2 separate regions of the Homo sapiens genome follow, and region 2 is linked to region 1. Evidence: fine-mapped expression QTL. A gene starts in region 1. The other region holds a variant in brackets. All regions are shown on one strand. Distances are from middle to middle. Region 1 holds the start of MTRF1L (mitochondrial translation release factor 1 like). Region 2 overlaps FBXO5 (F-box protein 5).

Region 1 (16,221 bases):
GGTAAGGATTCTAAGTAAATCAAATATTTAATAACAATCCTTAGAAGTATATACTTCTCTGGTAACCGAGGATCTATTTCAGTGGAAAATTAGTCATATTATTCCAAAATTGATTTCTTTGGTGTCATATATTGAAGGAATAAGTACACACCTGTTGGAAGATGAACTATCCGGACAGCACTGTCCGTGGTATTTACATGCTGCCCCCCAGCTCCACTGGCTCGCTTAGTGTCAATTCTCAAATCTTTCGGATTAATCACCAGATTAATCTATACAGAAGAAAAGTTGGGATTTTAAAAGATTACATGTATCAACTTTATAAAGGCAAGAGCGACCCATTTATGAATATACAACATGTACAGAATTCATATATTTGGGAGGTTTAATTTTAAGACTAGAGAGTAGCTAGAAGGATACCATTTTAAAACTTTTTTGCTTTTTGGAAGAGTAGGGAATCGAAATAGTACAGGACTGTACAGTTTTGAAAAACAAATCCTTTCTAGTCCTCAAAAACCTGGCTTCCCTTTATCCATTTCTTACCACAGAAACAGCAGAACTTGATACTATTCTGCCTACTTTTAGAACTGAATGTTTAAGGTTTTTTCAAATTTTTCTGAGTTTAAAGAGCCTAGCAGCAGGAAAAAAAAATGGTAGCGTGAGAACTGTGGGAAGGGTCTGTTTTGTTTTATTTCAAACATATTTGGAGGCAAAGATGAGCCAAATGGAAATGGGAGTGGCCAAGAAGTCATGAGTCTCAATTCCTCAACACACTGGGATCTGAGGTCAAGGTAATGCTTTGTCCTAGGAGCCACCATCAAAAGCACTGTTTCATGAACAACTAAGAACCATTCTGTGACATCTCTGCAATGCTGACAGTAAGAATCCTACCATTCTCTGGGCCTTCTACCTCTATGTCTCCCTGTGTTGACTCCCTCTTATGGTTGCTAGAGGAATTAGATGATACATGGACCTCAGTCTCTCATCTTTTCCTGAAAACTTCCACCCCAAGATGGTTAAACATAAGTGACTAGGTTTCTAGATGTGGCTCTTGCCATTTATTCTACTTTACTCTCTCCCTTAACTGCTTAGTTTCTCACCTATGCTTCACACAAAAATTAGATCTAAAGAAACTAAGACCTAAAGAAAGGAACTCCATTAAACCTATTACAGAGCCAAATAGCACTTTTTCCCAAAATTAGCATAGGAACCACTAAGAGTTCCTTCTCAAAGCATTCACACTTCATTCTGAAAAACAAGTCAGATATCTGCTATCACTTTTCAGTAGAAGGGAAATGAGGCAAAACAGAACTCCTACACTAAGTTATCTTAAAAATATAGACTGAGAATTTGCTTTGTGAGAATAAAGTATACTCATTATGAACAGTATAACAATATACTTTCATTTTAATGTAACTGGGTTATGAAGCAGCAATTCTGTTAAGTAATTACCTTTGTTAAATAGGATTGTTGCTGTTAATACCCCACAAACCAGTCACACAAGGCAGAAGTCATTATAAAGGCAACCAGTCCATATTTAAATAGGTTATTATTTCACCCACAGAGATGATCTCACAATAACTACTTATTAGGAAAATACTAATACACAGACAATGCAACATTGTATCATTTACAAATCCTTAATTTTTTAGCATTATAAAATTATATTTTTTAGACTGAGATAATATGCAACTCAAAATACACAAGGAAGACCAAATAGATACTCAATTCAGTAAACTCTGAATGTTAACTCTGGGGACAAGGCACTGTGCTAGGCCCGGGATTCCAAGGAGAGGGGCTTATGCCTTACCTCAGTAGGCTGGGGTAATATTGCTACAGTCATGGTGCTAGTATGGACGCGGCCTTGCTTTTCTGTCTTTGGCACTCTTTGTACTCTGTGAACACCTCCTTCAAATTTCATGTGCCTATAGGCTTCTGAACCCCCAATGCTGGCAGATGCATGTCTAAGGCCACCTTGAAAATACAGGGAAATAGAATTATTTTTATTATTCCTGCCATTTATAAATAATTGACCATCACATCTACTATCTTGAGGTATATTTTTAAAGTCATAAAAGGAGATGAACATGGAGACTGTAAAACATATTAAAATATTCAATGTTTTAATATTTATCTTTACTGCTTACAAGTACTAAACAAAGCATTTATGGGGCTAATCAGTTGACATCAGTAACACATCTAAGACTACTTTTAAAGACTGTTAGCAATTTGATGGTTAGTATTATTGAAAGACTCTCCATTAGATTTTATAGGTCATCTCAAAATTACTGTATGTGCATTCAAATTTATTAGGTAAATGATGAGCATAAAACTACATAAGCATCCTCACAGATAAGTTCTAAAGCCTAGTCATGGTCTTTCCAACTCTTTTCCTAAACACTTTACCTGAAACAAAATGAATAGTTTACTGACCTAGTTCACTTGGAAAATATTCCAGGGTTTCAAAATGCCATCTTTTAAATGCAGCATATTGCTGATACATATCAAATATCTCTGATGTAAACAACATTGCCTCCTGACCTCCAACTCCTGCAGTTACTTCCAGGATCAAATCATTTTCATCTGTTTCTTCTGAGGGAACCAAAAGTAAGATAATCTGTAAATATAAAAATATCACCCCTCCTATAATTAAGATTTAAAATTTATCAAAAAATAAAAAGCTAAATGATTCAGGAATTTTAAATATTTAAGTTTCGCCAAGCAAATAATGTAATATTGCTGAGTACTGTTCAACCACCTTGCCAATTAGAACTGTATAATGTGTAACTTCCATAAAGTATTAATGTTACAACCATATTATAAATGCTGTTAAGATTCAGCTAAAATTTCAGGCTTGTTTTATTGTCTGTTGGAGTTCTTGTATGCTTTGTATCAGTTCTCTCTTCAGTTAATAAGAACTAAGTACTTGCTCTGATTCGGAGATTATACTGTTGTGGAAAGCAAAAGAAGATTCTAGATCCATCCTCTTGAAAATTAAGGCCTAGTATGGCAGAAAACCAAAAGCACTCAAAACTACATTTGTATTATTTTAAGATTTCTTATTATGGAAGAGAAACTTGTAATTTTGAAACTAAAAAGGCCCTTAGAGATTATCTGGTCCAATTCTTTAATTATACATGTAAAGGAAACAGAGCTTAACAGAGATTAAATGACTTGTTTAAGGGCAAAGTGTTAGTTACTGGCCAAGCAGGCACAAGAACACAAACCTTTGTGCCTAGATCAGTCTTCCCTCCATTACAATAGTGTGTTTCTAATCAAGGGGATCTAGAACAAACACTTCTTAGATTAGGTCAATTAATAAGAAAAGCTACCAACATTTTATTGGTTCTTTAATATATGGCAGGCATTCTAAGCACTGTACATACTGTAATTCTTAAAACAATCTTGGGTAAGTATTATTAACAGTTCTACCTTAAGATGTGAAACTAATTTTACAGGGGTTGAATAATCTAGTGGCTCAACATTACCCAACTCAAAAGTTAAGTGGAAGAGCTAGAATTGAACCTGAATATACCTGAGTACACTGCTATCACACTTGACATTGGTCAGAAGCTATGCTAGTTACTACTTTTCCATCTCTCTAGCCTATGCCAATACAACATTATCATTCAAATTTTGAACAAATAATGGATTTTACTTCTGTTTGTTGATTACTAGACACTGAACAGAAACATTTAATACACATATCCTTCTTATTCACACAAAATTTAATTTAGAAAATGGGTAAAATGCGAGCTATACTACACTTTTCACCTTATAGTGGAATTCTCCCCCTCTAACATAGGTTATAGGAACATTAATTTTTAGTAATTTTCACATTTGCCTAAAGGGGAAGCAGATTCTCAAAAATAAGTACCCCCTTTCCTGGCTCCTTCCTTACCTAACATATTCTTTCACTTATCCCCAACGGTAATTGCTGTCAACCTTTAGTCTCTGCTTTACAGAATTAGCAAAGAGTGGCTCTAATTTCATATAATTATTCTTCATTAACTCTATATGTTCTGTAATTCACAAAGATGTACAACCAAAGCAATGTAATCCAATTCTTAAAATCGTGAGGGCTTACTCTAGGTCTGGTATTCCAAATAGTGTCAGAGATGCAAAATAAGTATTCCTGGCCCTGAGGAGCTCACAGTCTACTATCACTCTAACAGGGGACTTCAAGAAGTTGTATTTCAAAGTTATTTTGTAACAAAATAAACTCGTGCTAACTTGTTATAACAAGTCACAGGCTCTAGTTTGAGGTACTAAAAAGGGTATCAGTTTGCAAAGAGCCCCATCAGAGCAATATGAACTCTGTTAAATTGAAGCAAGAACAAACATTAAATTGCTGGTGAAGCTTGGGTGGAAGAATGGTGAAATCATTGATGCTTTATGAAAAGTTTATGGGGATGATGCCCTGAAGAAATCAGCAGTTTACAAATGGATAACTCATTTTAAGTAGAGACAAGATGATGTTGAAGAAGAAGTCCACAGTGGCAGACCATCTGCATCAATTTGTGAGGAAAAAAATTATCTTATTCATGCCCTAATTGAAGAAGACTGATGATTAACAGAAGAAACAATAGTCAAACCACAGACATCTCAACTGGTTCAGCTTATAAAATTCTGACAAAAAAATTAAAGGTGAGCAAACTTTCCACTGGATGGGTGCCAGAACCTTTGCATGCAGATCAGCTGGAGGCAAGAGCAGAGCTTTCAATAGAAATTTTAAACAAATTGGATCAAGATCCTAAAGCATTTCTTTGAATTATAACCAGAAGTGAAACATGGCTTTACCAGTATGATCCTGGAGACAAAGTACAATCAAAACAATGGCCACCAAGAGGTGGAAGGGGTCGAGTCAAAGCAAAAGCAGACTGGCTAGGGGCAAAAGTCATGGCAATAGTCTTTTTGGGGATTCTCAAGGCACCTTGCTTATTGACATTCTAGGGGCCAAAGAACAGTATCTGCTTACTATGAGGGTTTTGAGAAAGCCAGAGTTTTAGCAAAATACCAGGGACAGCTTCACCAGAGTCCTCTCCTACACCAGTGCTCCTGCTCATTCCTCTCATCAAACAGGCAATTTTGAGAGCTTCAATGGGAAATCCATAGGCACTCATGTTACAGTCCTTATTTGGCTCCTCCTTTTTTTTGTTTCCTGATCTTAAAAACTTTGTAAAGGGTACCCATTGTTCTTTAGTTAATAATATAAAAAAGACTACATTGACATGGTTAAATTCCCAGGACCCTCAGTTCTTTAGGGATGCATTAAATGCTGGTATATCACCTTTTTGCTTACCAAAGTGTCTTGAACTTGATAGCTGGTGGCACTTATGTCAATAAATTAAAGTTTATATATATATTTTTTTATCTTTTAATTCCAGTTTTCCACAAACTTTTGAAGTCCTTTCATATAACCTCTTCTGCCCCATGTCTACCTCCAGTCTTCTTAAAAAAAAAAAAAAAAAAAAAGGGAAGATATGCCACTATTTCGCTGCCTTTCCAGAAAATACTATCACTGTGACATTTATCTTTCTGTGAGAGCGCTACAGTACTTTTAGTATGATGAAAACAGGACCATGTGAAGTTTGTTCTTTAAAAACCAGTTTATTGATAGTCATAATCATTTCAAAATGTATGCATATATCAAAACATCACATCATATACCTTAAATATATGCAATTTTGGGGGTCAATTTATACCTCAATAAATCTAGAAAATAAATTTAAAAAACCCAGTTTATTCTAAACAGTAACAAGCTAGTCACTTGTTTTTATAAACCTTTAATAAACTTTAATGCCTAAGAATAGCACAAATGCTTTATTCTTTGCAGAAATACCATACCTGATGCTTCAGCTGAGTTATTTCTTTTTGACACAAAGTGATTTCATTCTCTGCAAGTTTCCTTAAATCTTCATTCTCATCTAGGAAAAAAAGGGCAGAAGTTAAGGTTTTCCTTAATTAGTGTTAAATTGCTAGCAGACTTCTAGGAAATAGTTTTATGGTTATTATAGCTGAAGGGAAAAATAAAATGTATATCTTGTCCTTTCAATAAATACCATTCAATAAATGCCTTTCAATAAATGTCCTTTCAATCAATTTCACCATTTTATACATTAGTTTTCATAAGCATGTAAGTATAAAATTTTTTTTCTGATAAAGTACAAGTACAAATTTCTATAAAAATATAAAGAAGCTAAACTCTTCCATAATTTCATCTCCATGAAATATTCACCTTAATAAATATGCTTTTAGACTTCCAACTTAGACTGTATAATAACGAATGCATTTAGCTAATAAGACAGAAGGGATACAGAAGGTTACACCAGTAAAACTAAAATTCAATTAAAAAGTAGAAATTTATTCTCTTATAAGCAAATGTTTCATTAGTATTTTAGTATCCACCCAAAAACATTTATTAGATTCTGCCTAATGTATACAGAATGTTTATACGAAGTACTCCTCTGTCTCTCTCTCTGGCTTTACCTTTATTGTTGTTTCATCTTTGAATTTTCATTTTTACCTTATAAAACATACTTTCTCATTCCTCTACCCTATAGATGATATGCAGCATATATAAAGGAGGAGGAAAGGGAAAATTTCTGGCTATTAACAAATTGTTCTCTCTATTGAAAGTTCAAACCCTTACAAAGCATCAGTTTGTATGCTTATCTATTAAGAAACAACCATGCTGGGAAGTGGGATAATACATATATAAGACCTGCCCTCAAGAGAGCATTATAGATAATTTTAGTTTCCTTATATTTTTCTAGAAGAGAAAAACAAAAAATAACCTAAACCCTTATGTGACATGGTTTGGCTGTGTCCCCACCCAAATCTCATTTTGATTTGTAGCTCCCACAATTCCCACCTGTTGTGGGAGGGACCCAGTGAGAGGTAACTGAATCATGGGGGCAGATATTTCCTGTGCTGTTCTCATGATAGTGAATAAGTCTTACAAGATCTGATGGTTTTATAAAGAAGAGTTCCCCTGCACAAGTTATCTCTCTTGTCTGCTGCCATGTAAGACGTGCCTTTTGCCTTCCACCATGATTGGGAGGCCTCCCCAGCCACGTGGAACTGTTAGTCTATTAAACCTCTTTTTCTTAAAAATTACCCTGTCTTGGGTATGTCTTTATCAGCAGTGTGAAAACAGACTAATACACTATGTGATTAAATATTAAAACAGTTGTGCCTTGAAGGAATCTGTTGGTTTTGGAATGGGCAGAAAAAGGAAAAAAAGATTAACTCAAGGAGAGAGAATAACAACAGCAAAACTGAGATAAGCAAGTACAGGAAGCACTGCTGAAAATTATTTTGGCAAGCATATGGTATGGAAGAAATTTGGTAGAATGGAAAATGTGTTAGGAAAAGCAAAAATGAATTCTAGCCCTAGCTTAATCGCTAAGGTACTGTTAGGGCAATAGGCTCAACTTCTTTCAGTTATGACAAGAATGAAATGAAAGTTCTGAGCTGGATAATCTCTAAGGTGCCTTTCAGTTCTGCAAAGCTAAGGAGATTGGAACTAGAGTCTAGAAGTAATTTAATTTTAATACTATATTTTATTTAACCCAATATGCTCCAAATATTATTTCAACATGTAATTAACATAAACATATTACTTTTTATACCAGGTGTTTGAAATCTATATGTATTTTACACTTACACACCTCAATTCAGACTAGCCACAAATTGCTCAACAGCTGTGTGGCTACTGGCTACTATATTGGACAGTGCAGCTCTAAAGGGTTTAGAATTAGGAGTTACTCACAGGCAATGGTAATATACTACTTCTTTAATTTCTCTTGAATATTATAAATCAACATATGTTTACTGGACACCTACCATGTGCCTGCCTTCCCCTTTGCCTATAAAGATGTTTATGGTTTCCCATTCTAAATGGGTCCTTTTCTTTTCAACCCTTTAAGTAGCTGCTTATTGTCACCCCTCTTTTCCCACCCAGATTTCTGGAGATAAAATGCCATTTTTATAACTTTTCTCCTGTTAACTCTAATTTACCTCTCAAGCTGTTACACTGGATTCTATAATCATATCAAGACCATTTTTATTCAAGTTACCAATGACAAAATTGCCAAATCTAAAGACTTATTTCAGTGTGAGCTGAAAAGGTTGTTTTACCTTTCTATGTCAGGTACTACGGATTTTTTTTTTTTTTTTTTTTTTTTGAGGCAGGGTCTTGCGCTGTCACCCAGGCTGGAATGCAGTGGCACCATCTTGGCTCACTGCAACCTCCACCTCCCGGGTTCAAGCGATTCTCCCACCTCAGCCTCTCAAGTAGCTGGGACCACAGGCACGCACCACCATGCCCAGCTAATTTTGCATTGTTTGTAGAGACAGGGTTTTGCCATGTTACCCAGGCTGGTCTCGAACTCCTGGGCTCAAGTGATCGGCCCACCTGAGCCTCTCAAAGTGCTGGAATTAGAGGCGTGAGCCACCACGCCTGGCCAAGGATCTCTTACTTCTTGAAATTTTCTATTGGCTTCTACAGCTTCATTTATTTATCTACTTCAGGGTCACAAAGCTCTGGCTGTTTTTTTCTTGACCTTTTATAGCCTTCTTCTCTGCCTGCTCCTCAAATACTGTGTATTTCTGGCCTTGTTAGACTTGTTTCTATCTTAACACATTTTCCCTGAGTGTTCTCATCTACTTCTAAGGTTTAATTTACCACGTACTGTATATCTCGAGAGCTCTCATATGATTATTTGGGCTCAATTTTTCTCCTATGTCAGTAATTTTTTCTCCTAGACTAGTACAGATATCTTTATTGGAATTCCTTTTCACAGGTATTTTTAACTTAATATGGCATTCAATGCAAAACTCATCTTTTTAAAAAATTCGGTCCAACTTTTATACTTTCATCTTAATTAACAGTACCACTCGTGCTGAAGCCAGAAACCTAAGACTTTTCTTAGAACTAACTCTCTCCCTCATCCTTCTCAGGGCATAAGCCACTAAATCCTAACTTGTTTCTCAAAATGTTTTGTGAGTCAGAACTATGCCTATCACCATTTCTTCTTTGGATTGTTTCAACTGCCTCCTCCCTGGCCTGTCAGCCACCAGCGTTTCTGGAGAATACTCCAATTTATCCTCAGCGCATGCCACCATTAACTTTTCTTTACAAAGACGTGAATTCTCTGCTTAAAAACATTTGCTAACTTTCCATGGTCTATAAAAAATAAATCCAAATTCTTTGTCTTGCAAGGTTCTTAACTATTTTTCTGGCTTCATGTTTCTATGACATCATCTCCCACCTATTCTATACTTAGGCCATACTGAATTTCCCAATTTAGTACCTTTACCCACGTATAGGTCTGAGATTCTGAGTCCTAAGTCTGCTATTAACAAGCACTGCCCTGATACTACTGCAAATGGGTCTCCACACCACACTTTGAGAAACACCGCTGTGGAGCCCATCACAGGGACAGTGCCTTATTTATCCTTGCTGAGCTAATGAGCTCTTGCCCGAGTCCACAACTAATAAGCATGTAAAAGGCGGCAGAGCGCCGTGGCAAAGGAGCACAAGAGAGCCCACAGGAGAGGATGGGATCACAGCACGTAATGATGTCCTGACCTCTGATCCAAAATAAAAACGGCTGCAAGTGAGTAAAGAGTTTCAAACTCGGGTAGTGTGGGCAGTGGAAAAGTCAAACGAAGAGTCAAGAATGTGCTCTGACGCCTCTCCCCCGGGCCCGACCCTTACCGTGCAGCAAGTGCTCAGTCTCCCGCAGCTCCCGCTCCTTCTCGTTCAGCAGTTTGATCACCGCCAGCAACTCGGGCCTCCTGACCTTCAAATGGGCTTCAGACCCCGCCTGGCGCTCGAGGAAGGTCCGCAAGGGCCCGCCCCGGGTGAACAGCTCCTCCAGCGGCGGGCTACCGGAGCTCAGGGGCCGGCGGGCTGGGCCAACGGCCCGGCGGGGCCAGAGCCACCGGGCAGCGCCCCACAGAACCCGGGACCGCATCCTTAGTCCGAGATCGCGGACCCTGACCGGAACCGGAAGTTCCGGACACAGCAGCCCTCGCGACAACACCCAGAATTTGGAGATAAGGGTGAGAGCGCACCAAGCCCCGCCCAGCGCAAGCGTTGCTTTTTAAAGGATTTTCCGGAAGCCTTGGCGGGAACTTCCTGCCAAGCGTGAGAACGCTGCGAACTTCCCGGAGGCCAAAAGTTGAGGGGGCTGAGCGGAGCGTGATTGGGGAGGGGCGGGCCTGGGAGACCTTGGGCGCCTCCTCTGAAAGCCTCTTGGTAGGTATCCGGTTGATGGGTGACGTGTTTGGCCGGAAAGGGAGAGCAGCAGATTGCCCCTCTGTTTTCTGATAGTGAGGATTTCTTTCCCATGCACTGAGTCGGGGCCTCCAGAGCCGCAGTGCAGGGCAGTCGAGGGTCCGCTGCAGGGCGGAGGTCACAGCCGCGCAAGTCGTCAGTCTCCGGTGCAGGGCTGCCGCTGAGTCTTCAAGAGCGAGTTTTATTATGGACAGGCGTGTGTTTATTCCTCCTCCTTTTTTCCTGCTTATGTTTCTCTTGTCCACGGTGGGTGAGGTTCGTGGTAATAAGGACTTGATAAGTGTATTATGAGATAACCACTGAATGAATTTGCACAATAGACGTGCGTGCCCTTCATCTGCCGCGTCATTTACTTGCTTTCAAAGGACTTTATTATTCACCTGCCCATTCATTTTCACTTAGTCCCACTTATCGTCAGCTTTTTAAAGAGGTGGAGTGATTCCGTGTTACAGCAACCTACAGCCCAACAAAGCCTTCAGATATCTGCCTCCAGGAGTCCAACCCTCATCCCTTTCCAAAGAACTGGTAGCGGATAGGTGCCAGCAATACCGACATTTATTGGCACAATGCTTTGCACTTTTCAAAAGACCTGTTCACAGCTCAACGGAGAAATAAATATGAGGGAATAAACACAACCAAGACAGTCCTGGGAATGCAAGGGCTAAACGCTCAATCTGAGAACTGCCACTACCTAACTGGTTTGGGCAGCGTCTACTAAGTGGTATTTCACTGTTGAGAGAGGTGATATATTAGAAGTACGAAACTTCTAATTTATTCATAAAAAATAAAATGGTAAAAAATGGGAACCCTTATCAAGGTTAAAATATCCTTAGGTCATCTAATCGAAACTGTTAAGTATAAACATTCTTAGAAAATAACGTTTGCATTGCCTCTCTCTTTTCATCTCTTAGCACGATAACAAATGCAGAGTGAGTGGAAGAATGAAATGACTCTTCAAACATCAGGAAGCAAAAATAGTTTTTTGCTACTTAAAGGCTCCACCTAATTATCTCAGTTCTTTTCACTTTGTGTATTCAAGCTACACAACTTTATACAATCGTTCTGCTGTTGAAACCCATTTTATTTTAATCCTGATCTGAGGATAGAACAGGACTGATCAGGATGTTTTTATCTCTATTAGAACAATTGTTTCCCAAGTCTGAACTTAACTTTGAATTTATCTTAACCATGGAAATGGTGAGAATCACTTGAACTCAACATGGTATATCTCTCAGTTGAGTTCTCAGAACATAAGTCATTTCAACAATATATTTTATTATTTATAAAAGGTGAAACATTTTAATAATTAAAACCTTATAGAACAATGTAAAGAATCTAGCCAGAATTTTATTTTCCCCCAAGTGCATAAGCAATTTAAGTAACACATAGAAGTGTACCTTTTATTCCTATAGTGTTATATACCAATGAGGAAACAGTAACTTTCTAAGGATACATTGTTGAATTCTTTATTAATTCAAAACATTTTAAGAAAGTCAGTGTAATGCATATGCATTTTACAATAACATCCATAGGTTTCCACAATCTAGTAAAATGAAAACAGCTGTATTTTGATTTACTTTGAAAACTCAAACCTATAGTTCGAGACTTCTGAATATTTTTACATTACTGTCATGCTCAAATTCTGTTACATGGTGAAAATTCTAGCATTTTCCAGAAGTATATTATTGTACATAGGTAAAATGATAAAATTGATTCTAGGAAGGGGGAAAAAAAAACCCAGAAAAACTTAAATTGGAGGAAACATAATCTGGATTATCTATTCAATTTGTGAATACCCACCGTTATTCTGGCATTGCAAAATAACCAAGTGTGGTGCCTCTTAAGTTGCATTCATGCATTCAAAACTTCTTTATTGTCCACTGATAAATATTGGTGGAGTACAATATATGGATATAGATTAAGTGTGATGAACATGGTAGTAAAAAATTATACACATTCGATATGTAATTTTACAAAACCAAACACATTGAATTCTTTTTAATATTTAGCAAACATTTAAAAATCATATACAAGAAAGGTGTTTATGACAAATCGGTTAAAGCTAGCGGGAAATAGGTCTTTTACATTATTTCAATATTCAGTGTTCATTGATTAGTGGAGGGCAATATAAAAATGCAATAAGCAAAATGGTTAGTTTAAATTTAAATTACCTCTTATGACAATTAGTAAGATAAGATCTTTAATATCCAAAGTATGTGGAGGATTATTGTAAATTGCGCAGACAGTTCAAGGGAAAAATTCACTTTCACCTCTATTAGGTGAATATTCAGGCTAAGACTTCTGGAGTTTTATTTTTCCACTTCACTGTATTTTCTTTATAGCATTTATTAGTAATCACTTAGTGGAACCTAATATTAGTGTTTAGAATTTGTTTAGCTCAGTGTAAATGTCCAGAAAATTTACCTTCAATATAATCTCTTTAAAAACGCATTACTTTACAGTGGAGAAATATAATAGATGCTACCTCAGCTAAGTGATCAAGGTTAACATCAACAGCTAAGAGTAGCCTAAAGTTTGAGAAACTGTCACAGCTAAGACGAGTCCCGGTGATGGCATATACCTTTGATACCATGTGATGAGCATGGCACTTTACCGTTGTGTTCTTTCAAAAACCAAAAACCTGTGTCTAGTCACGAGAAAAACATCAGACGAATCCCCATAGAAGGACATTCTACAAAATACCAGTTTATTTCTCAAAACTGTCATCAAAAACAAGGAAAGTTGCAGAAACTGTCACAGCCAAGGGAAGCCTAAGGAAACATGACAACTAAATGTAATGTGGTATCCTGAATGGGATCCTGGGACAGAAAAAGGACATTAGGTTATAAACTAAGGAAATCTGAATGAAGTATGAATGTAATGATCAATATTGGCTCATTAATGCCCATAGATGTATATGGGACCTCTCTATTTGGAGTTTTTCTGTAAATCTAAAACTACTCTAAAATAAAAGGTTTAATGGACACATTACTATTTTAAATTTTATACATTTTATTTTTTTCTTAGAGTCAGGGTCTCACTTTGTTGCATAGACATGTCTGGAACTCCTGGGCTCAAGTGATCCTCACGCCTTAGTCTCCCAAAGTGCTGGGATTGTATGCGTGAGCCACCGTGCCTGGCCCATTACCACCTTTTATTAAGTTTTTATTTTCATTGTAAAATTGTTAAAGAAAATCATACCACCTTAATATTAAAAAGAGTGTTTTCTAATTGTCAATCTCTTATAACTTAGTCTTAGCCCTATAACTCATTTATATATTTAGCAAGTAATTTGATATTATTTCTGTCCTTGGGAATGTTGTTTTATTTCCTTTGGAAATAAAACTTTCAAATGATTGATCTTATTTAAACTTTAATTTTAACCTATAATTGTATATCCATTTATCATCTATCTATCATCTATCTATCAATCATCTATCTATCTATGTCATTGAAAGAAACATTTCTATAGATTTGAGGTGATGGTGAACTGAAAGTACTGATTTGGGATCACATTATTGAGAAAAGCAGTAACACTGATATAGTGTTCCATCTTAAAACATGATTGTATGTTTTGATGAGTAGCTAAATCAGATGTTTAACGTATGTTTTGGAAAAAAATAGGGGAAAGTGCATTAAAGTGACATTTAATACAAGTATACAATAACAATTATTGACGTGATGCACTTTGATAAAATAATAATGTATGCCACACTTTATTCTTTCCACGTTTGTTTTATTTAATGCTCATAGTTATCCTGATAATTACGTATTTTATTTGTCATTTGCAGATGAGGAAATGAACTCAGAGAAGATAAATGATTTGCCCAAAGTCACATGAGACAGAAATATAACTTGAAATCAAATTTGTAATTTTAAGTTCCTGATGTTTTTACACTATGCTCCCTAAGTGAATCTGTGGACATACATTTCCATTAGTAACCTTACTCATCTTATAGCTTTTGTCATAGGAAGAAAATCAGTTCCCAAACTGGGACCTTCTATCACCTAGGGCAACATTTTGCCTTTTGTAGTGTTTTCAGTAGAGTCAAAGTCTTGAACAGCCTCTTGAATTCATCTGAAAAGATGTTACTTGGGGCTGGAGAGGACTACACCTGTAAGAGTAATAATTTCAAAAATACCTATAAATAAATCAAATCTGGGTATTCAGAAATAATACTTGTCATTGTGCACCATCTTGTGTTGCAAGGATATTTTAAGCACTGCAGGGAAAATCTGAAGCAAGTTTTGGGTTATCAGTTTTATTGATAAATATTTGCAGTTGTAGCAAGTGAAGAATTAAAAATTTTTGCAGATTGGATATTGTTTTTGCAGGAGAACAAACCCATTGGTCAGAAATTTGAAGATGGAAAACACAAAAATACATGTTTGAAAAATATACTTAGAAAATTATGGTTGTAAACTGTCAATGTAAACAGATAGGCGAAAATATTTTTTGGAAATATCTTTACCATCTTTCAAAATAATTAGGCAATGTGTCAAGATCAAAGTATTCAAAATACATGTTTGATAGGCTTCTATCTATAGGCATTTTCTGTCTAAGACTTAAAAATATTATTATTATAATTATTATTATTATTTTGAGATGGAGTCACTCTGTTGCCAAGGCTGGAGTGCAGTGGCATGATATCAGCTCACTGCGACCTCTGCCTCCTGGGTTCAAGCGATTCTCCTGCCTCAGCCTCTCAAGTAGCCGGGATTAAAGGCACCCACCACCATGCCCGGCTAATTTTGTATTTTTACTAGAGTCGGGGTTTCACCATGTTGGCCAGTCTGGTCTCAAACTCCTGAGCTCAAGTGATCCGCCCTCTTTGGCTTCCCAAAGTGCTGGGATTACAGGCTTGAGCCACTGTGCCTGGCCAAGAAATTTTAGGTGGTTTTCAAATACGTTTTATTTTTGACTTTTTTGATTGTATTTTAAATTCCTTCTCTTTTACATTTCAACACCAAAGCATCTAATAATTGGTATTTTTTGAGATATAATTTGTCACAATTACAATATGATTTTTTAAAGTATAAATAAGTTAAAGGTATAGAAAAATGGATAAACTCAAAAGTAAAAATCAGGCATTATTTTAAATTAGCTTAATGGGATGAAAATGTATTTTTGCTCCTAATAAATAAATATTATTCACTTATCCCTATAGTCCTTTGGCAAAACTGAACTATCAGGTAGATAAACAACACGTATTTCATTCTGTAAGTCAGAACCTAGGCAGCATTAAAGGATACTAATAAACATCCATGCACTAAGACGGCATATCAGAACTGGTCATTCTATGTACATATTTTAAGATTTCAAAAAAAAAAAACATCACATTATGGTCTTGACTTCTGCATTTCGTAACTTTAGTATCAAAGTTGTGTTTTGCTCTTGTTGTTCATGTGCACACTCCAACACTGTCAGAGCATCTCTACTACCTTTGGATAACATCATAACAGCCCGAGTAAAGAAGTGCCATCCATCCATTACTGGTGTGATTAATGTACAAGATCAATCTCTGAAGAAATCTGGCTCTCCAATTTATTTATATATACATAATCTGTATCCTCTACTTTCTTTTATAGATACATCTAAAGTTAGGCACTATAGAAAGTGCATTAATCTCTTTCTGTGTGCATCAGCAAATTCTAATAGTATACAAAGATACCTTGGCAATTGAAAACACAAAGTGTCCATTTTAAAGTGCTAATTTTTCCCCAGGGAGGAATTTACTCACTAGGAAAACTCAAATTCTAAGAAAACAAATATTGTGCTCTTGGAATGGTAGCATAGACACCAGTTGAAGGCTCTTTTGTTTATTTATAATAGCTCTGTAACTTAAACAGAAGGAATTATATCATACTTAGAAAATTAGTAGAGTTGCAAATATACAGACATACTCTTAAATGAGAAA
Region 2 (16,221 bases), 35 kb before region 1:
GAGGATCACTTGTGCCTGGAAGGTTGAGGCTACAGTGAGCTGTGATCTAGCTACTGCACTCAGCCTGGGCAATAGAGTGAGAGCCTGTCTAAAAAAATTAAATCGATAACATTGTTTACCACATTGGCTTTAGGACTTTCTTGGGACCAGTTATCTCTTTCTCCTTGCTTATTTTTCCCTTTTGGAATGGGAATGTTGATGGTGATTGTGAATCCTAGGTTTTTGTCTTCTAGGTTAAAAGAATTTAAACAAGAGACACACAGCAATAAACAGCATGAAGCAATATATTGCAAAAGAATAAGTATATTCTGAAAGGTAGGTGCAAAAGCAATAATAGTACACTCTGAGAGCTGAGTCAGAGTAGGCTGCTCGAGAGTGAGACAGCATTGACTATTACAAGGGAAACTCTCTTTATGGAAGTCTTACATGATCATTCATAAGGGGGTGGGAAAAGACATTGCTATTGGGTTGGTGCAAAAGTAATTGCAGTTTTTGCTGTATTTTTAATGGCAGAACCACAATTACTTTTACATCAGCCTAATAGTAAGTATATTACAGGTGTTCTCTGGGTACACATGCTCAGTAGCTGTACATGCTTGCTTTGTTTTTGTTTTTGTTTTCGTTTTTGAGATGGAGTCTCACTCTGTCGCCCAGGCTGGAGTGCAGTGGGGCAATCTCAGCTCACTGCAACCTTCACCTCCCAGGTTCAAGCAGTTCTCTTGCCTCAGCTTCCCACATAGCCAGGATTACAAGTACGTGCCACCACACCTGGCTAATTTTTGTACTTTTGCTAGAGATGGGGTTTCACCATGTTGGCCAGGCTGGTCTCGAACTCCTGACCTCAAGTGATCCATCCACCTTGGCCTCCCAAAGTGCTGGGATTATAAGTGTAAGCCACTATGCCCAGCCATGTACATGTTTGTTTATATACTGTGGGTCCCATTCACATCTTAAATCTCCTCCCAGTGGTGTGTTTTTTACTATTATAATGAGCAATGAGTCAGTCTGCGGACAAGTAAAATTAAAATGTGCATACTGTCTACAGGATAAATTTCCTGGCCAGGCACAGTGGCTCATGCCTGTAATCTCAGCACTTTGGGAGGCTGAGGCGGGTGGATCACTGGGTCAGGAGTTCGAGACCAACATGGTGAAACTCCGTCTCTACTAAAGATACAAAAATTAGCTAGGCATGGTGGCGCATGCCTATAGTCCCAGCTACTCCGGAGGCTGAGGCAGGAGAATAGCTTGAACCTGGGAGCCAGAGGTTGCAGTGAGCCGGGATCATGCCATTGTACTCCAGCCTAAGCGACAGAGCGAGACTCCATCTCTAAAAAAAAGAAAAAAAGAAAAATTCCTACTGAGGATAGTTCTGTGCTTGATTATGAAGCCAGTAGTGAGTGCTCTTTGTTTGTTTGTTTTCCAGAGTGCCAGGGTTTTATCACAAATGGAGTTGACTGCTAGAGAGGCCCTTCTCCAATCTTTCTTCTGTACCCTCTTCTCTCCCAAAGACATCCCTCCAGGGGAAGTCAGTAGGCCATTAGAAAGGAGGAAATATGGAGAGTGAAAAGGGGCACTGCTTTTGTCAACATCCTCTGAAACAACCACTGAGTCCTTTGGGCTCCAGTTGAGAATCTTCTAGTGGAAGAGGTTTAGCTCTCATCTTCAAGGTCCTTCATTTCTATGTCCTGGGGGACTTTTGTCCTCTTTTGCATTTTGAGCTGTGGTTCGATAGTCCTGGCTGGCTTTGACGGGCTTCCACCTCCATGGCTGCCTTCTCCATCTGGGCAAGCCGGATCTGCCGGAGGAGTTTTCTAGGCTTCTTCCCCTACAGAGTAATGTTGGCACGTGCACTGGATGCCTGCTTCTTGAGGTGGTGCCGCGTGATCAGCGCTTGATCTATCACAGCTTCGACCACCCAGTGCCTCAGACGCTGCTTGCGGTTCAACACCGGCCTGCGCTGATCAGCTTTTTCTTCAGCTCGGTTCGGCGCCAGTTGATTTTTCCCCCCGGGATCCCCCACAGTTGCTCGGCGACGCCAATATGCGGTCCGTACTTCCGCCTGGGGTTTGTTGTATTGGTGTGGTTTTCACTTCCCGAGGACATGGTTGTGGGGCTTGCTGTTGTGGTGCAGTCGCTGAATCCCAAAGACATGGTTACTTCCCTGACTACCTATCTTGCCTCAGGAATGTCTATGCTATGCCTGTCCCACCACTGTATTTTGGAAGCACATAACGCTTGGAAGCACATAACTTGCTTGATTCCACAGGCTCATGCCTGAAGTAAATTGCCTCCTTGCCATCCTGCCTTGACTTTAGCCTATATCTTATTTAGATGAGACTCTGGGCTTTGGACTTTTGAGTTGATGCTGGAATGATTTAAGCCTTTTGGGGGCTATTAGATGAAATGCATGTATTTTGCAAGAAAGACATGAATTTTGGGGCCCAAGGGAACAAAAAGGCTATGGTTTGAATGTGTCCTCAAAAAAGCATGTGTGGGCTGAGCACCGTTGCTTACACCTGTAATCTCAACATTTTGGGAGGCCAAGGTGGGAGGATTGCTTTAGCCCAGGGGTTCAAGACCAGCCTGAGTAACATGGTGAGACTCTGTCTCTACCAAAAAAAAAAATCATAACAAAAACTTAGCTGGGCATGGTGGTGTACACCTGTAGTCCCAGCTACTGGGGAGGCTGAGGTGAGAGGATCAGTTGAGTCTGGGAGATTGAGGTTGCAGTGAACCATGATAGTACGACTGTACTGCAGCCTGGGTAACAGAGTGAGACCCTCTCTCAAAAATAAATTAATTAATTAAAAGCATTTGTTGGAAACTTAATTTCCAATCTAATAGTGTTGAAAGGTAGAACCTAATAGAAGATGTTTAGGCTATAAGGGCTCCACCACTTATAAGTGGATTAAGGTTGATTACAAAGGGGCTTCAGGCTGCAAGTTCAATCTCTTGCCCCCCCTTTTTTTTTTTTTTTTTTGGAGATGGAGTCTAGCTCTGTCACCCCCAGGCTGGAGTGCAATGGCACGATCTTGGCTCACTGAAACTTCCACCTCCCAGGCTCAAGCAATTCTCCTGCCTCAGCCTCTGGAGTAGCTGGGATTACAGGTGCATACCACCACACCCGGCTAATTTTTGTATTTTAGTAGAGACGGGGTTTCATCAGGTTGCCCAGGCTGGTCTTGAACTCCTGACCTCAGGTGATCCGCCTGCCTCGACCTCCCAAAGTGCTGGGATTACAGACGTGAGCCACCGCGCCCAGCCTTCTTGCATTTTCTTTGCCCTTTTGTCATAAAAGAGTGCAGCAAAAAAGGTCCCTGTCAAATGTCAGCCCCTTGATCTTGGACTTCTCAGCCTTCTGAACAGTGAGCCAATAAATTTCTGTTCATTATAAATTACCCCGTTTCAGATAATCTGTTATAGCAGCACAAAATCAAGTGAAAAACTTGGTGAATAACCCTATTAATGTCTTATTGAATTCAGTTTACTAGTATTTTGTTGAGGATTTTTGCATGTATGTTCACCAGAGATTTTGGCCTATAATTGTCTTTTTTTGTAATGTCCTTGACTGGCTTTGATTTCAGTAAAGTTGCAGGATACAAAATTAACATATTAAAATTAGTATCATTGCTATACACTAACAACAAACTATTCACAAAAGAAATCAAGAAAACAATCCTATTTGTGATAGCATTAATGAAAAACTTAGAAATACATTTAACCAAAAATAAAATTAACCAAATACATTCAGTGTATGAGAGATCCATACACTGAATATTATAAAACATTGATGAAATAAATTTAAGAGAAAAACAAATGAAAATATATACAGTATTCATGGATTGGAGGAATTAACATTGTTAAAATGTCCATATTACCCCAGTGATCTACAGATTCAGTGCAATCCCTGTCAAAAGTGAAATGACCTTTTCCCAGAAATAGAAAAGAACAACCCTAAAGTTTGTATAGGAAAACAAAAGACCTCAAATAGTCAAAGCAATTTTTAGGAAAACAAAGCTGGAGGCATCACAATACCTGACTTGAAAATGTACCAAAAACGTATAATAATCAAAACAGCCCATACTGTCATAAAAGCAGACATATAGACCAAAGAAATAGAAAACAGAGCCCACACATTTACAGTCAACTGATTTTCAGCAAAGCTGTCAAGGACATACAATAAGGAAAGGACATTCTCTTCAATATGTTGGGAAAATTAGATATCAACACCCAGAAGAATGAAATTAGACCCTTAATCTTGTCCCAAGTACACAAGTCAAATCATAATGGGTTAATGTCTTAAATATAAGATCTGAAACTATAAAACCATTAGGGGAAAACAGAGGGAAAGAGCTTCTTAACATTGGATTTGGCAAAAATTTTTTGGATACAACCCCAAAAACACATGCAACAAAAGCAATATTAGACTAATTGGATTGCACCAAACTAATGAGCTTCTGCACACCAAAGGCAACAATCAACAGAGTGAAGAGACTATCTATGGGATGGGGAGAAAATATTTGCAAACCACATATCTGATAAGGGGCCAATATCCAAAATATTTAAGAAACTCAAACAACTCAATAGCAAGAAAACAACCAGTTTAAAAAATGGGTAGGAACCTGAATAGATATTTCTCAAAAGAAGACATGTGAATGGCCAACAGGTATATGAAAAGATGTTCAACATCACTAATAATCAATCAGGGAAATGCAAATGAAAGCCACAATGAGATATCGTCTCACTAGAATAGTCTTTATCAAAAAAATAAAACATAACAAGTGTTAACAAAAATGTGGAGAAAAGGGAACCCTAGTACATTGTTGGTGGGAATGTAAATTAGCATAATTATTTTGGAAAACAGTATGGAGGTTCCCCCCAAAATTAAAAATAAAACTATTGTATGATTCAACAATTATCTTTCTCAGTATGTTACCAAAGGAAATGAAGAGATATTCCCTCCTCCATGTTCATTTCAGTATTATTCATAATAGTAAAGATATGGAGTCAACCTAAGTGTTTATCAACTGATAAATGGATAAAGAAAATGTGATATATATACATAGCATGATACTATTCAGCCTTATGAAAAGAAAGATATCTTGCCTTCCACATGGCAGTCTTGCAACAACATGGATGAATGTGGAAGACATCATCCTAAGTGAAATAAACCAGGCACAGAAAGACAAAAGACAAACTGAATGATCTCACTTTTATGTGAAATCAGAGTAGAATGGAGGTTACCAGGGACTAGGGTGGGTGATAGTGAGGTGGAAAATGGAGAAATATTGGTTAAAGGATAAAAAGCTTAGTTAGATAGGAGGAATAAGTTCTGGAGATCCACTGTGAAGCATGGAGGCAATAGTGAATAATAATGTATTGTATGTATATTTGAAGACTGCTAAGAACATAGATTTTTAAATGTTCTCACCACAAAAAAAAGATAAGTATGTGAGGTGATGGATATGTTAAATCATTCTACAGTGTGTGTGTGTGTGTACATATATCAAAGCATCATGTACCCCATAAATATATAGAATCATTTGTTAATTAAAAATAACTTCAAAATGACAAAAATAAAGATGTTTTCACATGTACATAGGCTGAAAAAAATCAAAGACCAGCATATCTGTATTATAAGAAAAATTAAAGGAAGTCCTTCAGGCACAAGGAAAGTTTTATCAGATAGAAATATATTTATTTCTACCCAAAGGAATGAAGATACCAGAAATGACAACTGTGTGGGCAAATACAAGTATAAGAAAACTTTCTCATTACATAAATATCTTAGATGATAAACAAAGAAACAAAAATAATGTAGTGTATGTATATATTTGTGTATATATATACACATATATATTGCACTAACATGTATGATAACAGCACAAAGCTTAGAGGGAAGAAATAGTATGGCAGTTTTATACTATATATAAAAGGGTACAATAATATTTGAAGCTAGACTCAAGTTAAAAAGAAATACTATAAATCCAGAGGTAATAGCTAAAATCACAAAATAGAATTATAGCTAATTAGCTAATAAACTAGATATAAAGGAACCATAAAAATAATCAAAAGATGGCAAAAAAGAGAAAAAAATGGAATAAAGAACAATTACCAAATAGAAAACAAATATCAAGAAAGTAGGTTTAAATCCAACCATATCAATAATCCCATCAAGTGAAAATTGTCTAATTATCTCAAAAGACAAACATTTTTGAAGTAGATTAAAAAAATAAATGAATACTTGACTATATGCTGTCTGTAAGAAACACACTACCATAGAAAACTACAAAAAAAGTTAAAAATGGATGAAAAAATATACTATGCCAATATTAATTTCAAAAAACAAAACAAAACTGGAGTGCTTATTTTAATATAAAACAATGTAGATTCCATAGAAAAGCCACATCCAGGGATAAAAAGGTCATTTAAAAATGATAAAGTGTTCATTTCACTAAGAGAACATAATAATCTTAAATATTTATGCAACTAATGACAGAGCTTCAAAATACAGACAGCCTCTGACTTACAAATTTTCAACTTTACAATGTGCAAAAGGGATACACATTCAGTATGCTTTTTGACTTATGAAGTTGTGCACAGATAAACACACTGTAAGTTCAAACAGTGGGTGTATCCAGACATAACCACATTGTTGAGGAGCATCTGTACTTAAAAGCAAAAACTGATAGAATTACAAGAAATAGACAAATCCACAATTACAGCTAGGGATCTGAATACTTCTCACTCAATAATAGCACAAATAGATAGACATCAGTAAGGATATAGAAGATATGGAGAGCACTATCAACCAAGTTGAACCAATTGATATTTATAGGTCATTTTACCAAAGAACAGCAAAACACACCATATTCCCTTCATAGAGCGTATTATAGGCCAAAAACAAATACTCAATAAATTTGTAAGAATTGAGTCACACAACTGTTTTCTCTGACCACCATGAAATTAGAAGTTAATAAAAAGATATATGGACAATTCCAGAATATTGGAAAAGTAAATAACAGACTTATACATAACCTACACATCAAAGAAGAAATCCAAAGGAAAATTATAGAACACTTACAAATGAATAAAAAGAAAAGGACAAAATATCAGATTTAGTGGTATGCCGCTAGAATAGAATTTGGAGGAAACTTTTAGGACTAAATATTTATATTAGGAAAGAATAAGGGTCTGAAATCAATGAACTCAACATTTACCTTAAGAATCCAGAAAAAGAATGTAGAAAAAGGGCAAATTAAAGTCCTTCAGGCACAAGGAAACAGAAGAAATAAAACAAAAAATCAATTATAAGGAAAAACAGGGAAAAATCTGAAACCAAAAATGAGTTATTTGAGATCCATCTAAGTGATAAACCTGTAGTCAGACTGATCAGTATAAGGGGAGAAAAGACAGAATTTATCAATATTGGAATGCAAGAGATGACATTAATACACATTCTATAAATATTAAAGATACTAGAATATTGTGATGACTTTATTCCAATAAATACAATAAATTAAATTAAAAATGCATTGAAATATACAAACTACTAAAGCTCACTCAAGAAGAAATAGATAACCTGAATAGCCCTTTATCTATTAAAAAACTGTATTTCAAACATCTTTTCACAAAGAAAATGACAGACTCAGATGGTTCCCTTGTACAATTCCAGCAATAGTAAGAGAAGAAATAATACCAATTCTACACAAACATCCAGAAAATTGAAAAGAAAAGAATATGTCCCAAAGACATTGTATGAAAGCTACAGACCAATATTCATCATAAATATAAATACAAATTCTTAACAAATATATATTTATACATATTTAAATATATAATAATGTTTAAAAAGGATAATACATTGTGATGAAGTGGCATTAACCCCAGGAATGCGAGATTGCTTTAACATTTGAAAATCAATCAGTGTAATTCATATTAACGAATCCAGAGAGAATAACCATATGGTCATATGAATTGATGGAGAAAAAAAGTTGACAAAATCCAACAGCCATTTCTGATAAAAATTCTCAACAAACTAGGAATAAAATGGAACATCATCTTGATAAGAGGATATGTGAAAAACCTACAGCTAACATCATTCTGAATGTTTTCCCCTAACATCTGGAACAAGGCAAGGGTATCTTCATCAACATTTTTTATTTCTATTTTACTGGAGGTTTTAGCCAGTACAAATTGGCAAGGAAGATAAATACAAACCATATAGATTGAAATGGAAGAAATAAAACTGTATTTATTTGTAGAAGACAAAAATCACCTACAGAGAACAAGTGATAGACTTTCAATTATAACTGAGGTTTGCAAGGTTGGAGAATACAAGATCAATATAAGAATAAATTGTATTTCAATACATTAGCAATAAATCATTGAAAATTGAAATTAAAATGCCATTTACAATAGCACAAAAAACAGGGATAAATCTGATGTAAAGTGCACAAGACATACAATGAAAAGATAAAACTTTGCTAAGAGAGATTTTGAAATATGGAAATCAGTGGAAGAACTCTATGTTAATGGATTGAAAAACTCAAGGTTGCTAAATGTCAGTTCTGTATAAATTGGTCTATAGATTCACTGTAATCCCACTGAGCCCACGCCCACCCGGAACTGGCCCTGGCCCACAAGCACCGCGCGCAGCCCCGGTCCCCACCCACGCCTCTCCCTCCACACCTCCCCGCAAGCTGAGGGAGCCGGCTCCGGCCTTGGCCAGCCCAGAAAGGGGCTCCCACAGTGCAGTGGCGGGCTGAAGGGCTCCTCAAGTGCCCCCACAGTGGGAGCCCAGGCAGAGGAGGCGCCAAGAGGGAGCGAGGGCTGTGAGGACTGCCAGCACACTGTCACCTCTCAATGCTATCCCTCCCCCAGTCCCCCAGCCCCAACAGGCCCTGGTGTGTGATGCCACCCCCTTCCCCTCATGTCCATGTGTTCTCATTGTTCAACTCCCACTTATGAGTGAGAACATGTGGTGTTTTGTTTTCTGTTCTTGTGTTAGTTTGCTGAGATTGATGGTTTCCAGCTTCATCCATGTCCCTGCAAAGAACATGAACTCATCCTTTTTTATGGCTGCGTAGTGTTCCATGGTGTATATGTGCCACATTTTCTTTATCCAGTCTATCATTGATGGGCATTTGGGTTGGTTCCAAGTCTTTGCTATTGTGAATAGTGCCACAGTAAACACACGTGTGCATGTGTCTTTATAGTAGAATGATTTATAACTCTCTGGGTATATACCCAGTAATGGGATTGTTGGGTCAGATGGTATTTCTGGTTCTAGTTCCTTGAGGTATCGCCACACTGTCTTCCACAATTGTTGAACTAGTTTACACTCCCACCAATAGTGTAAAAGCTTTTCTATTTCTCCACATCCTCTCCAGTACCTGTTGTTTCCTGACTTTTTAATGATCACCATTCTAACAGGCATGAGATGGTATTTCCTCGTGGCTTTGATTTGCATTTCTCTAATGACCGGTGATGATGAGCTTTTTTTCGTATGTTTGTTGGCTGCATAAATGTCTTCTTTTGAGAAATGTCTACTCATATCCTTCACCTACTTTTTGATGGGGTTTTTTTCTTGTAAATTTGTTTAAGTTCTTTGTAGATTCTGGATATTAGCGCTTTGTCGGATGGATAGATTGCAAAAATTTTCCCCCATTCTGTAGGTTGCATTTTCACTCTGATGATAGTTTCTTTTGCTGTGCAGAAGCTCTTTAGTTTAATTAGATCCCATTTGTCAATTTTGGCTTTTGTTGCCATTGCTTTTGGTGTTTTGTTCATGAAGTAATTGCCCATGCCTATGTCCTGAATGGTATTGCATAGGTTTTCTTCTAGAGTTTTTATGGTTTTAGGTCTTATGTTTAAGTCGTTAATCCATCTTGAGTTAATTTTTGTATAAGGTATAAGGAAGGGATCCAGTTTCAGCTTTCTACATGTGGCTACCCAGTTTTCCCAACATCATTTATTACATAGGAAATCCTTTCCTCATTGCTTGTTTTTGTCAGGTTTGTCAAAGATCAGATGGTTGTAGTTGTGTGGTGTTATTTCTGAGGCCTCTGTTCTGTTCCATTGGTCTATATATCTGTTTTGGTACCAGTACCATGCTTTTTGTTACTGTAGCCTTGTAGTATAGTTTGAAGTCAGGTAGCATGATGCTTTCAGTTTTGTTCTTTTTGCTTAGGATTGTCTTGGCTATGCGGGGTCTTTTTTGGTTCCATATGAAATTTAAAGCAGTTTTTTCCAATTCTGTAAGAAAGTCAATGGTAGCATGATGGGGACAGCATTGAATCTATAAATTACTTTGGGCAGTATGACCATTTTCACCATATTGATTCTTCCTATCCATGAGCATGGAATGTTTTTCCATTTGTTTGTGTCCTCTCTTATTTCCTTGAGCAGTGGTTTGTAGTTCTCCTTGAAAAGGTCCTTCACATCCCTTGTAAGCTGTATTCCTCGGTATTTTATTCTCTTTGTGGTAATTGTGAATGGGAGTTCACTTGTGATTTGGCTGTCTGTTATTGGTGTATAGGAATGCTTGTGATTTTTGCACATTGATTTTGTATCCTGAGACTTTGCTGAAGTTGCTTATCAGCTTAAGGAGATTTTGGGCTGAGACGACAGGGTTTCTAAATATACAATCATGTCATCTGCAAACAGAGACAATTTGACTTCCTCTTTTCCTAATTGAATATCCTTTATTTATTTTCTTGTCTGATTGCCCTGGCCAGAACTTCCAACACTATGTTGAATAGGAGTGGTGAGAGAGGGCATCCTTGTCTTGTGCCGGTTTTCAAAGGGAATGCTTCCAGTTTTTGCCCATTTGGTATGATATTGGCTATGGGATAGTCATAAATAGCTCTTATTATTTTGAGATATGTTCCATCAATACCTAATTTATTGAGAGTTTTTAGCATGAAGGGCTGTTGAATTTAGTTGAAGGCCTTTTCTGTATCTATTGAGATAATGATGTGGTTTTTGTCATTGGCTCTGTTTGTGATGGATTACGCTTATTCATTTGCATGTGTTGAACCAGCCTTGCATCCCAGGGATGAAGCCGACTTGATCATGGTGGATAGGCTTTTTGAGGTGCTGCTGGATTCAGTTTGCCAGTATCTTATTGAGGATTTTTGCATTGATGTTCATCAGGGATATTGGCCTGAAATTCTTTTTGTTGTCTCTCTGCCTGGTTTTGGTACCAGGATGATGCTGGCCTCGTAAAATGAGTTAGGGAGAATTCCCTCTTTTTCTATTGTTTGGAATAGTTTCAGAAGGAATGGTACCAGCTCTTCTTTGTACCTCTGGTAGAATTTCAGCTGTGAATCTGTCCCTTCCTGGACTTTTTTTGGTTGGTAGGCTATCAATTACTGCCTCAATTTCAAAACTTGTTATTGGTCTATTCAGGGATTCGACTTCTTCTTGGTTTAGTCTTGGGAGGGAGTGTATGTCCAGGAATTTATCCATTTCTTCTAGATTTTCTAGTTTATTTGTGTAGAGGTGTTTATTCTCTGATGGTAGTTTGCATTTCTGTGGGATCGGTGGTGATATCCCCTTTATCATTTTTTATTGCGTCTATTTGATTCTTCTCTTTTCTTCATTAGTCTGGCTAGCGGTCTATTTTGTTGATCTTCTGAAAACATTAGCTCTTGGATTCACTGATTTTTTGAAGGGTTTTTCGTGTCTCTATCTCCTTCAGTTTTGCTTAGTTCTTTCTTGTCTTCTGCTAGCTTTTGAATTTGTTTGTTCTTGCTCCTCTAGTTATTTTAGGTGTGATATTAGGTATCAATTTTAGATCTTTCTGCTTTCTCCTGTGTGCATTTAGTGCTATAAATTTCCCTCTATACATTGCTTTAAATGTGTCCAGAGAATGATACCAGAGAATCTGGTATGTTGTGTCTTTGTTCTCATTGGTTTCAAGGAGCATTTTTATTTCTGCCTCAATTTCGTTATTCACCCAGTAGTCATTCTGGAGCAGATTTTTCAGTTTCCATGTGGTTGTGCGGTTCTGAGTGAGTTTCTTAATCCTGAGTTCTAATTTGATTGCACTGACAGCACCTTACTTGTAACAGCAGGAAATGGAGTAAAGAGCCAAACATCCATCAACTGGTGAACTGGTA[T/C]ATCCAACAGCATACTGCCTTGTAAGAAAAGAGCATTAACTACTGATGCACACGCACAGATGAGTGTCAAAATAGCCTTCAGTGAAAGCAAACTGACTCCATTTATAGAAAATCCTTGAAAAGTCTGCAGTGACAAAGATCAGTGATTGCCTGGGAGTTGACAGGAGGGACCCTCTACCTTAGGTTTTTGTTGAGACGAAAGGCAAAGCCCTTAAACATCTTTGGGGCCCAACTGATAGCATCCGAGGCCCACCCTTGAATCTTTGGAGGGCCTAGTCTGAATTCAGCCTCTTAGGATTTCCCCATATTCGTAATTGAAACTGAAACATAACTAACTTTGGAATTAAGGAATAAAGACATCCTTGTTCTGGGCTCTTGTTATTAGCACAAATGTTTGACTGCAGCCAAGATGGCATCTTATTCTATACAATTTAAATCCTTCTAGCTTTTTGAGGGGGATGGGGTGCTATTTAATCCATAGTTCAGCTGGTTTAGTGATAGACAAATTAGCACATCAGTATTTATCAGTGTCTTTTATGGCCTTCCTGTATTGAATCATCTCGAGATGTTTATCTCAAGACCCAACCCCACAACTACTGAATTAAGCTATTAAGTGGGAAAAACCGGGATCAGGGTACTGCCCAAAAATCTCACAAGCTCCCCAGAAAAACCATCACAAAAATCCATTCAATGCCTTCACACAAACGCAGTCTACTGCAGCTTCCTAATTCAGTTGTTTCCAGGATTACAATGTTTATAAAAGGTATACATTAAGCTTACAATTTTATTGAGCAAAATTTATTTTTATATGTACATACAAGAGACATATTCTTTGACATATAAAAAATACAGAAATATTTACATGTATACAAAAATATTAAAACAGATTTCAGAAATAAGGAAAACAAGCAAGTTTTTACAAAGGATACTTTCTTGGGAAATACACACAATGAAAAAAAGCTTTAGAAAGGTGACAACACATTTAATAGACTCCAGAAGTTGATATTTCTGTTGGTATCAATTGAGTAAGAGGAACATAAAATGTCTGAAATGCTAACAGATGGAAAACCAGACATATTTAAGACTGTCTAGGTAAAATTGCATGGGTTTCCTTTACCATAAAATTGAATCAATTTTTTTTTACCCTCAGTATCACTATCTACTTTTCCTTTTTTCTTAAAATATTTAAATTGTTTGATTTGTATTGAGAATTTTAAACTTTTTCTCATTAAATTGTAAAAATATTTTAAGAGGTTGTCTATCCTCTTTATCTTCTGGGGGGAAAAAAACCTCAGGATACTACACCGATTTCAACATAAAATTGAAAATCACAATACAATTTTTTTTAAGTTAAAACCTAACATTTTCTAACTAACATTCATGATCAGTAACAATTGATTTAATAAGAGATCACAATCTTCGTAAATTCTTTTTGCTTTTCTTTGTACCAGGCAGGGGACCTATTTTACAACTGGCTTTGAGGAGCTTGCCATCTGAACAGTCTTTAGTAGTATGATAATTACAGAGACACTTCGTACAATAATCAAATCCACAGCCTTCTCGTTTGCAGGTTGCCCGTTGTAAATAGCAATCATATTTTGCAGGTGAATTACAGCGAATACAGGCTTTGAGGCTTTCGTTCTTTTTCAATGTCTTGGCAACCTAAAAAGAAAAAAAAAACCCATTAACAAATTTCAGCAAGAATTACATGTACTTTAGTTAATAAAACCAAGGACACCCTTGCACCTTCCCCAATTCATGTATGAAATATCACTGTCACACATACGATAACTACTGCCCTAACTATTGCCCTTTATCTATGCATTATCTGATAGATGCTCAATAAATGCTTTTTGAATAAATCTGTATGTTGCATTAGTCATTATGGCATAAAATTTAAGAATAGTTTTATTATGTAGGATTTATATTTACTGATCAACATGAATCAGAAAATATTCTATAATTTTGGTAAGTTATCTAAATTAAGCTTGCAAAGTTATCTACATTTGAGTAGAAATTTTAGCACACATCATTCACTGATCTGAAGGTATAATAGAAGGCCTTCAAGTTCAGAAAGCTTGCCTTTTTCCACTTAACTCTCTTCCTCGGTTCTTAAAAGCGGAAAATGCAAAATGTAGTACTGAGTAATTTTATAAGAAATCTAGGTTTTTCATTATTTCTTCAGTGTTTCTAAATTAGAACTCAAAATCACTGAACTTTCAAACAATGCCAAGCAGTACCTAATATTCATAGAAATACATTTCTACGTACTTTCCTAATTTCATGTTTCTTTTGTTTTCCACATTGAGAGCGAAATGAAGAGGACACTAATGAAATCCCTAATAGTTCTAATTATACTATAATTAAATTTAAATGATCATTAATATCAGGTTTCTTAATGTCAGAGAATAAATTAGTTATTATCTAGAGCAAAGTTACATTTTGACCTTGAAAGTTCTTTTACATTTCTTACTCTAAATCTCTTATGTTTTAAGATTTATGATTAGACAAAAAATTACCTCAGAGAATTCATTGTGTCGACTATAAGTAGAACCTTTCTGATCACCTTGATTGGATAACTTGGTTTGAGCATCTTTTTTGAGAGAAGTCTGGGCTGCTGATTTCTGAACAGAAGCCAGTGGGGTTCTGAACATAACATATTCTCTGGTTGAAGCATGAGGTGAAAATTTATTGTTGTTTTCCTAATTTAAAAAAAAGTTTTAATAGAATTTAGAAATTATTTCCTGTATCCTCAATGAGACATTTTTATGTTTGTACATATAAGAAATGACAAACAAGATTAGGTAAGAGACTTATCCCTACATGCAATTTACCTGCACGTACTTAAACAAAGCAAAACCTAAATACTCACACATATCAAGCCTAACTTATAGACAGAAACTGTGAACCAAATACTATGGGAAATCACTTTAGATGCAGTCTATATGGTACTTAATACCTAAAAAGTAAAACAGCTTTTCCAAATTTTCCAGATGTTATAAAATACACATACACACAACTGGCAACTAAGATTGACTAAATGGTCGACTCTATCTGAGAAATGAGTAATTTTCCCTTTGTTACTTTAGACATTCTATTTCTAGGAAGAATCCAAGAAATAAATGTTGAGTTGAGATTTCTTTATTTTTGAATGTGGTTTCTAAGTTCCAGTATAAGGCTGAAATACTTTATGACTGTAAAGAAGGGTTTCCAGATTACCTCTTTTCTTTTCTATTTCTAGAAGAGCACTAACAGTGCATTTTTAACTAAAAACATCATCTGCAAACACTTACGGTAACTCTTTGTATTGCTTTACTGTACAACTGGAATGCCCCCTTATCATCTTCTAGGATCTTCTTCCAAGTTGTGCTCACTTTAGACACACTGGAAAAGTAAATCACCATAAATGAAATAATTAAAGCATCACAAAGAGCTAAGATGAATACAGTAGAAAAACATCAGCAGTGCAAAAAGATATTTTATATTATTAGTGCTTCTCAAACCTGACCACATTACAATTGCCTGGCGGTTTTAACTGGTCTAAAATGAAGCTCAGGGCTCTGTATTTTTAAAAAGCTCCCTCCTCATTAAGTAATTCTGAGTGCATTGAGGCTTAAGAACCACTGCTTTGTACAGTATTTTTTCACAATATCTGCAAACATCAAATAGTAGCCCCCACTGTATATATGATACCATGTTAGCTATCTGGTAAAAGTAATAGACAAATTTCAAAGTACTCTAGGCACACTGCTATTAGAAATCAACTTTAGAAACTCACTATGTTAACAGAAAAAGTAGAATCTGTGGTACTGATTTGACTGTCCCTCAAGAAGCTGTTTAGGCTCATGCCTGTAATCCCAGCACTTTGGAAGGCTGAAGCAGGCAGATCACGAGGTCAAGATATCGAGATACCCTCCTGGCCAACATGGTGAAACCCTGTGTCTACTAAAAATACAAAAATTAGCTGGGCGTGGTGGCACACGCCTGTAGTCCCAGCTACTCAGGAGGCAGAAGAATCACTTGAGCCCGGGAGGCAGAGGTTGCAGTGAGCTGAGATCGTGCCACTGCACTCCAACCTGGTGACAGGGCGAGACTC

Evidence for each region. PIP is the estimated chance that this variant, and not a neighbour inherited with it, causes the effect. A credible set is the group of variants that fine-mapping cannot tell apart.
Region 2: its variant is the best candidate, but not a certain one, in a credible set for the expression of MTRF1L in whole blood (INTERVAL, PIP 0.52).

Annotation. Positions count from the first base shown.
Region 1 is chr6:152,992,706-153,008,926 of GRCh38, forward strand. It overlaps MTRF1L (mitochondrial translation release factor 1 like), which reads right to left and starts at 10,004. Exons shown (of 7, transcript NM_019041.7): 1 at 9,722-10,004; 2 at 5,845-5,924; 3 at 2,431-2,614; 4 at 1,808-1,971; 5 at 152-269. The coding sequence starts at 9,980. RGS17 (regulator of G protein signaling 17) reads right to left here. Exons shown (of 5, transcript NM_012419.5): 5 at 11,754-16,221. RefSeq lists silencers at 9,752-9,811, 9,822-9,931 and enhancers at 10,161-11,161, 10,252-10,361.
Region 2 is chr6:152,957,628-152,973,848 of GRCh38, forward strand. It overlaps FBXO5 (F-box protein 5), which reads right to left. Exons shown (of 5, transcript NM_012177.5): 3 at 15,419-15,509; 4 at 14,645-14,827; 5 at 12,908-13,787. The coding sequence ends at 13,536. It also overlaps the pseudogene C11orf98P2. Among named protein-coding and RNA genes, the nearest start is that of FBXO5, 17 kb to the right of the region's middle. The variant T/C (reference allele first, on the strand shown) is at 12,126.